Regions from separate parts of the Homo sapiens genome. Here region 2 is linked to region 1. Evidence: fine-mapped expression QTL. A gene starts in region 1. The other region holds a variant in brackets. All regions are shown on one strand. Distances are from middle to middle.

Region 1 (5,386 bases):
TCCCCACACATTTCTCTCTTAGGCCTGTTCCTTCTGTAAACCAGATAAGTCATGTTGATAGTTGCTAATCACCAGCAGAGTTAGTGTTGCAACTCCTGATCAAGGAATTCAAATTGGAACAAAATACCATAGACAAATCAATTTCTATCACTTTCTAAAGCACCTTGGAGAGAATTTCCTGATAATTTCTGAACCTATTCAGTGTAAATCCTTGAATTAGTCAGGGTGATATATAAAAGAAATCATTCCTACCTTTCAAAAACATTGATAGTCTAGTAGGAGAAATAAGTACATAAGTCATTAAAACCCAAATGACTTATAAATGTCTCTAAAATATGTAAATAAATTATAACAGTATTTCAAAAGGGAAAAAAGAGAAGAGTTATCTGGGAATTAGACAAATCTTTCCATAACAATATTAACCTTTACCATGAAGGATTGGTAAAGATTATATATTAGTGGGAAAAAAAGGCAGCAATGCAAACTTACATTGGTAAGCTGTGCTTCTGAGTATATTTAACTTAGTTATACAACTCATTTGGTTTTAAAAAATCATGAATGTACTCTAATAAATATATACAATTTAATATGCATTATTCCTTCAGTTCTGCTTTTTGTTGTTGTTGTTAAAATATGTGTGAGAAACGTGTTAAGACTCATCTCCTACTGGAGGTGTTTCATTGAAATTAGCTTTCAATCTAAATAGCTTGCTATACTCAAAAAATAAACTGCCTCTGATTTTTTGCCTAGCTTTAAATCTGTAAAATTGAGTCTCATGAAAAAAAGCATTTAGGTTTCTAAGTAACCCAGATATTTCTTGAGCATCTGGAAACCCACATGTTAGTTACTCCAGCATTAGAGATTTTATAAGACAGCGTTTAGAGGCAGATCACTCTTGACAAAGTCACCTTGAGTGTTTTTGCCTTTGTTTCTAAACTCTGGACAACTCAAAGAAAGTATTATAGGACTCAGCTAATTCAAACAATGGCTTTCCTTTGAAATAAGATCGTCTGCTTCCCTTAAAGGCATAGTAGTCACCTTTGACACAAGGAACAGAAGGTAAAATAACAAAGGAAGTGGTGAACCAACCTCAGTTCTGGAATTAAAAAAAAAAAAAACTGATTTGCATTAATTATCATTTCTAGGTGTCTGGCCTAGTCCAGAGGATGCAAATGGCAGTTCAGATCAATCATCCTTAAATCGGATGTGAACGCTTTGATGTGGCTGAGGGAGAGTTGTGGAAAGGGGAGTAGGTACCATGAAGAGAATTGCAACAAAGGAAAAAAAAATATATGGGGTTGAATTGCCCCAAAGAGGACAGAAACAGCAAAAACATATTTTTTTATGTACAAGTAAAAAGTACAGAAGACAAAATAATCTCACCTGGTCTGAGATCTTTAGAATATAATGTTTAATGTTGATTCCCTTACTCTTACTCCTTTTAGGACTCGTGTGTGTGTGTGTGTGTGTGTGTGTGTGTGTGTGTGTGTAATGGGGTGGGGTAGGGGAAGGAGAGAAACTGATAGTACTGATGAATGGGGAGCTAGAAAGACAAGGAAGGAAAAGAGGCTCTGAAACCTAAGGGTGCCTACTGTCCTGGGAAACTTTAAAGCATATTCCATGACGAATTACATTATCTCCGGGCTTAGAAAATTCCGAAAAAGATGGGAAGACAAATCAAAGGCCTTTGATAAATGAGGCCTCAGTTTTGTGGTCAAGTCTGCACTAATTTTTGCCTTGTGTGATGTGCGAATTTGACAAAAAGAGGCGCTGGATTGAGGAGTGGGATGGGAAGGGGGAGGCACCTCTACCTGCACACGGGGGCAGGGGATGGATGCAAATCAGGCCTTCCCGAGTGGCCAATCAATAGTCAGGTGAGGGATTTTGGGTCCCCACCCCATCCCAACCGGCGTTTGAGCACGTGCACGGTGTTCTGGGACCTTTGTCCCGCAAAGTCACGCTTGGCGGGCACCCCTTGGTCCCTTTTTCTGGTCAGATGTGCTTGATTCTTTTCTGCTCTACAACCCACCTCTCTAGTCGTGTCTTCCCATCTCCCTACTCATTCCCTCCCGCGCCGCTGCGGGTGAGAGCCTTCAGCGGTGCGTCCTAAGGAGCGTGAGGAGTGTGCGGAGCTTGGCACACCAAGTTGCTGAGACTGTGACACCAGCCTCCGCCCGTTCCGCGCGGGTGCAGGCGGCGAGCCTCGGCTCGGACACCACAGCTCTCCTGCCCGCGCCGGGCAGTCCTCTGCCTGTCCAGAGGCAGCACTCCCGGCTCTCGGCTGGCTGTGGGTCTGTCTTGTGGGGCTCCAGCACTAGCCTGCTCGGCCTCGGAAACTCCTGCAGCGTCCAGAACACAGAAAATAGACTCATCTCCTAATTCGCCAGGGAGCTCGAGGGCTGCGGGGCCGCGGGGCTGCCTCCCCCGCTCCTCCCCCAACCCGACCCCACCCCACCCCCGCCAGGGCTTCGGCGGCCTCCCGGAGTCACACAGCCTACCCCCCCACCCCAACACCCCCTCCCCCGGCAGACAAAGGGCCTGGGCAAATTCGCCGCCCGGCCTCCTAGCGCTCCGGGGAGGCCGCTGCGCCCCGGAGTGGATCGCGCTGGAGGCGTGCGCCGGGCGAGAAGCCGCGGCCGCGGGAGCGCAGTATGGGGAAGAACCGCGAGATGCGCCTGACTCACATCTGCTGCTGCTGCCTCCTTTACCAGCTGGGGTTCCTGTCGAATGGGATCGTTTCAGGTAAGTTCTTCCGTGACTTTCTCGCTTCCTTTCCAGCCATCCCAGCGGAGACCGCGAACGTACGGGTCGGCAGGGCTGGTGCAACCGGTGCGTGGAGAGCAGGGCTCAGTGGGTAGCAATAAAAATGAGCTTGAGGTGCAGGTTAAGGGGTCAAGTTCGGAAATGAAGCACACTTCTGCCGGCCTCGTTTTAACCGTATGTGGAATAGTTTCCTTCTAATTAGAGCAATAATATTTGCAAAGGTACGTTTACAGCACCTGGAGGAAAATTAGAACGTACCTAAGTTGATAGCAACGCTCTGCTCTAGCATACACTTCAGAAATCGTTTACTCGTGCTGGAGTCTTTGCATCGGTTTTCTTTTCAACAATGAAGTGCGGTCACCAAACTTTGATTCCCCCTCCCCCGCCCCTAATATAATCGTACTTTTACTCTGAAAATGCTGGGGTCTGTAATCTGATCGCAAGGCTTCTGGGGTTGCAGAGTTTCAGGGTCTAGACGGGTGGTCTCCATTGCATTCAACGCGAGCGCCCTGTATCTATGGACTGTGAGCTTGGAAATGTTTGTGCTACTGGAACCGCGGCACTTTAAGCCCCGCACTTCTGTCTGCCCCGCCCGCAGAGCTGCAGTTCGCCCCCGACCGCGAGGAGTGGGAAGTCGTGTTTCCTGCGCTCTGGCGCCGGGAGCCGGTGGACCCGGCTGGCGGCAGCGGGGGCAGCGCGGACCCGGGCTGGGTGCGCGGCGTTGGGGGCGGCGGAAGCGCCCGGGCGCAGGCTGCCGGCAGCTCACGCGAGGTGCGCTCTGTGGCTCCGGTGCCTTTGGAGGAGCCCGTGGAGGGCCGATCAGAGTCCCGGCTCCGGCCCCCGCCGCCGTCGGAGGGTGAGGAGGACGAGGAGCTCGAGTCGCAGGAGCTGCCGCGGGGATCCAGCGGGGCTGCCGCCTTGTCCCCGGGCGCCCCGGCCTCGTGGCAGCCGCCGCCTCCCCCGCAGCCGCCCCCGTCCCCGCCCCCGGCCCAGCATGCCGAGCCGGATGGCGACGAAGTGTTGCTGCGGATCCCGGCCTTCTCTCGGGACCTGTACCTGCTGCTCCGGAGAGACGGCCGCTTCCTGGCGCCGCGCTTCGCAGTGGAACAGCGGCCAAATCCCGGCCCCGGCCCCACGGGGGCAGCATCCGCCCCGCAACCTCCCGCGCCACCAGACGCAGGCTGCTTCTACACCGGAGCTGTGCTGCGGCACCCTGGCTCGCTGGCTTCTTTCAGCACCTGTGGAGGTGGCCTGGTAAGCGCCTTCTTTCCCTAGCTCTCCATTTTCCCCTGCTGCTCCTCTCCTTGCCCATAGGTCAGGATGATTTGCATGCACCTTCTCCCCTTTCAGTGTGCTCCTTTTGAGCTTGGCCCTAGACTGCACCCCCAGGTGTCTACATCGTTTGCCTCCCATGGAACATCTCCAGGGCAGTTGTGTAAATCGGAAGTTTAATTGGGTGGATAAATGGCCTTCTCCTTCCAGATGGTTATGTGTCTTTCAAAACTGCGTGAAACTCTGCCTTTTCGTAACTTCTTCCCAATGGCTCAACTTCTTTCTGTTCTCCAGAGTTTTCCAAACTAAGCGCTCCACGTGATGTCTTTTAGGAACTCGAAAGACAACCAGTCGGCTCACTGATGAATCTCCTTCGTGTTTGCGCCGCACTCTCAGTTCCTCATCTGTTATCTTAGAGCTTTTTCATAACCTACTTCAAAGTTGAAAGAACAGTTCTATAGGGGATTACTCTGACAGTTGTCTAGAATTTAAACACATCCAGAGTCATACTGGACACCTGTTCACTGTTCTTGTGAAAGGAGTTGGGAGGGACTCAACTGAGAGACTGGAGGTTGAGTAACGGGTGACATTAGAATCCGATCTGTGTTCAAAGGGTTATGGTTCTGTGATTTACATTTCATTTGACAGTAGTTCCTTTTCTTCTTTCCACTTTTTGGAGGAAAGGAGCAAGGTGGAGAGCCTTGTTAAAAGGCCTGTTGGGATGGAAAGTAAAAGCCATTTGCTCTGTCAATGTAGAACATCATTTGATTTTTCTCCCTCTGTCACGATTCAGGGGTTGGGACAAGCTTCTATAAGTTGACCTTTGTGTGTGTGTGTGTGTGGGGGGGTCAAATATGCATAACATAAAATTTACTATTTTAACTGTTTCTAGATGTACAGGTACGTGGCATTAAGTACATTCACGTTGTTGTGCAACACCACCATGTCCTTTATGGTTGTTGCCACCACCATAGGCTTTACTATTAATTGGTTTAAGACAAAACTCATAAAATATCAAAAATGCACTTGTGATTTGTGGCTTCATTTTGCTGTTCATAGTGAGCCACTGAGAAATCCACAAGAACTTGCATGGAAGCAAACTGCTCATTTGGAGAAAATCCAACAGCAGTGGATAGCAGAAAATATCAGCACAATCAAAGCCACCCAAAACTACCACCTCCCCTGACCCAAGATCCCATAGTCAAATGATGTAAACTGTTGGACAGTACTCATAATGATGAATATTCAAATACGGGCATTTTTAGGCATAATTGAAAAAAATTGGCATGGAAAAATTACATGAGAAGCTTTTATTAAAAGGTTTTATGTGGAACTGATGTTTGAACATTTC
Region 2 (5,386 bases), 21 kb after region 1:
ATGCTCGAGCAATCCTCCCACTTCAGCCTCCCCAGTTGCCAGACTACAGGTGTGTGCCACAGCTAGTTTTTACATTTTTTTTTGTACAGATGAGGGGTCTCTCTGTATTACCCAGGTTGGTATTGAACTGCTGAGCTCAAGTGATCCTCCTTATCATCTCCCAGAGTACTGGGATTATAGGCATGAACCACTGCACCTGGCCACCTCTACCTTTAGTAAAAATCAAATCACAAGAGGAAAATCAATGAATGGAGGCGCTGTAGTTTTCATTTGCATTGATTTTTAAAAACAAAGAGGACCAGAATATAATAGCCACTGTTTATTCAACACTGCTATATGCCATATACATATTGCCATAAGGTATGGCAAATTTTTCACAGAAACCCACTAAGGTACGTGTAGTCACTCAGTTTTATAGATAAGGATGCTGAAGCTGAGGGAGATTAAATGTCACCCTAGAGGGGAAGCTGATGAGGCCTAGAGGTGAAATTTAAAGCCGTATGTGTGTGTGGTGTGTATGTTTGTATATGTCATGAAGATACTTTGTTGCTTCAGTATTATTTATCAGAGATATATAACACATTCACATCATTTTAATCCTTTGATCCAAGATATGGGGTAGAAATTGATGTGGAATAAGTATAGGAGTAGAAATAGTAGAATTTAACATAGAAATTTGCTGATTTGTAATGTAATCTATCTTCTCTTTCTCTTTCTGTTTCCTTTCTGATGTTGGTATATTTAAAATTTTTAAGTAAGAAATTATCACGTTAGGGAGATTTCCTAAAAAATAATCCTGGCGCAGTCCAATATCATCAGTACTTCTAGAAGCAAGGAACTCACTAAGGCAAGAAAATAAATAAAAGGTATTCAGATTGTAAAGGAAGAAGCAAAGCTGTTTTTTATTCACAGAAAACATGATGGTCTATAGAGACAATCCTGCTAAAACAAACGTGCGAGGTTTAGCAAGATGGCGGGATACAAGTTTCATGTACAAATACGAGTTTTTTTATAGTACTAATGAACGATTATAAATTAAAATTTTATAAGCACATTTACAATACTATAAAAACATGAGACACTTAAACATAAATTTAACAAAATATGCCCTGCACCTGTATACCAAAAACTGTAAAATATTGCTTGAATATTATAAAATATTGACAGAGATTAAGGAATATCTACATAAATGGAGATACATACAAAGCTCATGAATTAGAAAACTCAATTTTAAGATGTCAATTATTTCTGAATTGATTTATAGATTTGGTACACTCATTTTTTAAAAAAACAAGCTTTTTGGGTAGAAATTGACAAATATGTTTATAGTTATGGAATTCCAGAGAACTTAGAAAAGCCAAAACAATTCCGACAAGAACAAAGTTGGAGAACTTACATGATCTTATTGAAGTGATAATGTTAAAGCTTTAAAATCCAAATAATCTGATATTGGAACAAAGAGGCATATGGAACATAAGACGGAATCCAGAAATAGTTCTACTTAAATATGGCTAGTTGATTTTCAAGAAAGTTACCGATGTAATTCAATGGAGGAATTCTAGTCCTTGACATATGGTGCTGGAAGAATTTGACATCAATATAGGAAGAATGAATCTTGACAGCTGCCTCACAACAGCCACAAACATTAATTTGAATAAACTATAAATCATTAGAAGAAAACCTTCACTACTTTGACATAAGCCAAAAATATTTTAGGTAGGATACAAAGCTACAACCTTAAAAGAAAAATACATTACATAATTTGGACATCTTAAGTATTAAAATCATCTCTTTTTCAAATGACACTGATATAAAAACATAATACAAAAAGTGGGAGAAAATATTTGCAAAAGATATATCTGATAAAGCATTTGTTACCAGAATATGTAAAGAACTATCTTCATTAATAAGAAGGCAGACAACATGAAAAATAGGCAAAATGCTTGAGCAGTCTGTTCACTAAAGAAGATACCAGATGGAAAAAAAGTTCGTGAAAAAGATGGATAATATTATTAGTCATTAAGAAAGAAATAAAGGTGAATATCCACATAAAAGTTCTCAAAGATTCACAGCAGATTTTTTCATAACAGCCTCAAACTGGAAAATAAACAATAATGTGTTATTGTCCTACAGTAGAGTACTACTCAGCAAAAATACTCATATATTCCGCAAAATGGATGAATGATGGAAGCTAAACACCAAAAATTACATAATATTTTATTCTATTTGTATGAGATTCTAAGAAGGAAGGACAAAACTGTGGATCAGTGATTGACAAAAACCAAGTAATGAGGAAAAATAATTCATTATAAAAGTGCACCAGGAACTCTAGGGGTGATAAAAATATTTTATATAATAATTGTAGTGGTTGTTACATGACTGTATATGTTTGCCAAAACAAACGAAAAGCAACGTGCAGCCTTTTACCCCTGTATTAGTCTGTTCTCACACTGCTATAAAGATACTACCTGAGACTAGTTAATTTATAAACAAAAGAGGTTTAATTGACTCACGGTTCAGCATGGCTGGGGAGGCCTCAGGAAACTTACAATCATGGCAGAAGGTGAAGGGGGAACAGGCACCTTCTTCACAAGGTGGCAGGAGAGAGAGACAGAGAGTGCGAGAGTGCAAGTGCAGGGAAAACTGCCACTTTTAAATTATCATATCTTGTGAGAACGCCTTCACTATCACTAGAACAGCGTGGGGGAAACCACCC[C/G]CCATGATCTAATCACCTCCCACCAGGCCCCTCCCTTGACACCTGGGGATTACAATTTGAGATGAGATTTGGGTGGAGACACAGAGCCAAACCATAGCAACCCTTGATTACCTAACCATCCTCTGATTAACACTCTTGCTCCCAGGATAAAAGCAAGTGTCCTTAACAGTTTCCTATCTTTTTGAACCTGGAGGTACAGGTATAGTCTGATAATAGTTGTAGTAACACTGTTACATTTCTTAACAATGCATTTTAGTGGTGCGATCTCAGGTGATCTTTGCTTGTTTAGCCCACATTTCACCTAGTCTGACAGTTCTTTTAAATCAAAACATTAAAGGATTGTTTTGTAAAATAGTAAAACAACACTGAAGTAAGTATAGAAAGAGAATCCCCAGTTCCCGAACCCTCCCCAAAGGTGACTTCAGATAGCAGCTTGATGTGTTTTCATGGAGGTCTTTATACACACTACGTATAAATAGAGTGCAGGTATTACTTGAAGGCCTTTTTGCCCTAAGATCTCCAGGAAATTCCTTGAAGCCCACGAGTGTCTAAGGCCTTGAATCAAGATTTCTATCCAAGCTTGGGGTAAGGAGTTAAAAAGCATGGACATCCTTTCTGAGCTCCTTCCCTCACTCTGCACCTGCATGCATTGCCTTTGCTTCCTCTGCATCAGCTAGCATAGAACATTTAAGGACTTCACTGCTTTCCCAAAAAATAGTTTCAGACCAGTCATTTTTAGGAATTATAGGAAATTTTGATGAAGAACTAGGGTGTTTGAAAATACAATATATTGGAAGACCTCAGCCTTCTAGTACTTCATTTTCTCCCATGCTTTCTCCCTGTCCATCTGTGCTCTCCCCCTTTTCTTTCAGTGTTGTTTCCAGATATTCTGAATTCTTCACCCTCTATCACGCATAATTATTCACCTCTTCACTTCTCTCACCCAACAAACTTTCCATCTCAAATCTGTCAAGGTATACAGAAGAAAAAAGGGCCTTCCAGTCAATGAAATTCTCTTATAAGGAGTCAGTTTGAATTACCACCTTCCTCTTTGGATTTTTGCTGTTCCATATATTTTATAATAGAAGATATTTCATGTGCAATATTTTGGACCTGTTTTTCTCCAAATTAAGGGAACTACCAGAAAATAGGTTTCTTAATTCCCAAATTAATTAGCTAAAGTCAAAATATCTAAAATCAAATCATTTAAAATCAATTATCTAAATTATACAAATTAATGAGCTACAAAGATGAGTTATCATACATGTTTGCAAAATTCAGTGAAGTGTTTTAAGCACTTGTTTATATCACAACAGAACTTATAACAAGCAAGACCTGTCATGATTCATGTGCTATCAATAATGTCCCATGATATCACTCCATGACCATCCCTGCCATTCTCCTAGTTATTACCAACTTCTTATTCACATTTCTATGTTCACAGTATCACCATATGCTCAGTCCCATGTCACATATTTCTTCAGTTATCTTTGTGTTGAGAGTTTCTAAATGAATACTTATACAAAATTATCCTTTTAGGATACTTCCATTCTTATTATATTTTGGTATTATAGGGTCATAAATAACAAAATCTTTTCACATACAAAATTTTGCTCATATAATATAAATGGGATTACATATTATATGTGTTCCATAACTTTTTTACTTGTTTATTGACTTGTAAGAGATCTTTATACAGCTTGAATACTAATCTTTTATTAGCTGTATACACTACAAATATCTTCTCTGTGACCTAGAGATCATTTCATGATATTTGTATACATCTACTTTTTTAAACAGCCATATAATAATCCATCATATGAGAACACAATAATTTATCTAGGCTTCCTATGTAACTTCCTTTTTAAGAGCAAGAAGCTCTGCCTCCTATTAGCTGTGTTACTTTGGATAAGATATTTAATCTCTCTGAGTCTCTGTTGCTTCATATTTAAAATGAGGAAAAGTATTTTCTACCTCATATGGTTATAGGTGAGATTAAAGAAATAATGCAAATAAATTATTCCAGAGCTGGGTTTCTCAACCTAAGTACTAATAATATTTTGGGGCAGGATAATTGTTGTAGGGGGCTGTCCCATGCATTGTAGGCTATTTAACAGCATCTATGACCTCTACCCCTAGATGCTCAGTTGTGACAGCCCAGAATGTATGCAGACATTGCCAGATTTCTCCCTGGTATGTGTGTGTGTGAAGAAGGAGGCACAATCACACCCAGTTGAGAACCAATATTTTGGAGAAGGGCCTGGCAACTAGTGTCAGATATACTACTACATGAAAGTGGACATAGGCACAGCCAAAATCTGTAAGATGCTCTTCATATGGATTACATTATGGGTAGCTCTTGCTGCAGTTGTGCATGGTTGTGGCCATGAAGAAAGGTGGCCATATTGCTAGGCTTTTAGGTTTGTGTCATTTTTACACTAAGGCAAATAACAATAATTTCATAATATACAACTAATTACATAGATCTTTGCATGCCTGTGTGAGCATGCCTGCAAGAGATATTCCTGAAAATGATGTCTTTGAATGGGGGGTGGGGAGACACAGGGCTTGCGTTATTAAAAGTTTTATATATTCTGCCAAATCAACTTCTAAAAATGCTAGACCAAGTTACACTCTCACTAACTGTAGTTAAGAGTGCCTTTTTCCTCA

Direction of the effects. Positions count from the first base shown, and alleles are read on the strand shown. Sizes are in standard deviations (SD) of each study's normalised expression.
For the expression in skeletal muscle of the gene that starts at base 2,558 in region 1, allele G in region 2 goes with a higher level than allele C (moderate effect, 0.60 SD a copy in GTEx).

The links. PIP is the estimated chance that this variant, and not a neighbour inherited with it, causes the effect. A credible set is the group of variants that fine-mapping cannot tell apart.
Region 2: its variant is the best candidate, but not a certain one, in a credible set for the expression of ADAMTS19 in skeletal muscle (GTEx, PIP 0.53).

What each region holds. Positions count from the first base shown.
Region 1 is chr5:129,457,741-129,463,126 of GRCh38, forward strand. ADAMTS19 (ADAM metallopeptidase with thrombospondin type 1 motif 19) reads left to right here and starts at 2,558. Exons shown (of 23, transcript NM_133638.6): 1 at 2,558-2,742; 2 at 3,362-4,017. The coding sequence starts at 2,652. It overlaps ADAMTS19-AS1 (ADAMTS19 antisense RNA 1), which reads right to left and starts at 2,949. Exons shown (of 2, transcript NR_125748.1): 1 at 2,685-2,949; 2 at 1,819-2,339. RefSeq lists an enhancer at 1,517-2,479.
Region 2 is chr5:129,478,640-129,484,025 of GRCh38, forward strand. The region is part of intron 2 of ADAMTS19 (ADAM metallopeptidase with thrombospondin type 1 motif 19); the gene reads left to right. Among named protein-coding and RNA genes, the nearest start is that of ADAMTS19-AS1, 21 kb to the left of the region's middle. The variant C/G (reference allele first, on the strand shown) is at 2,717.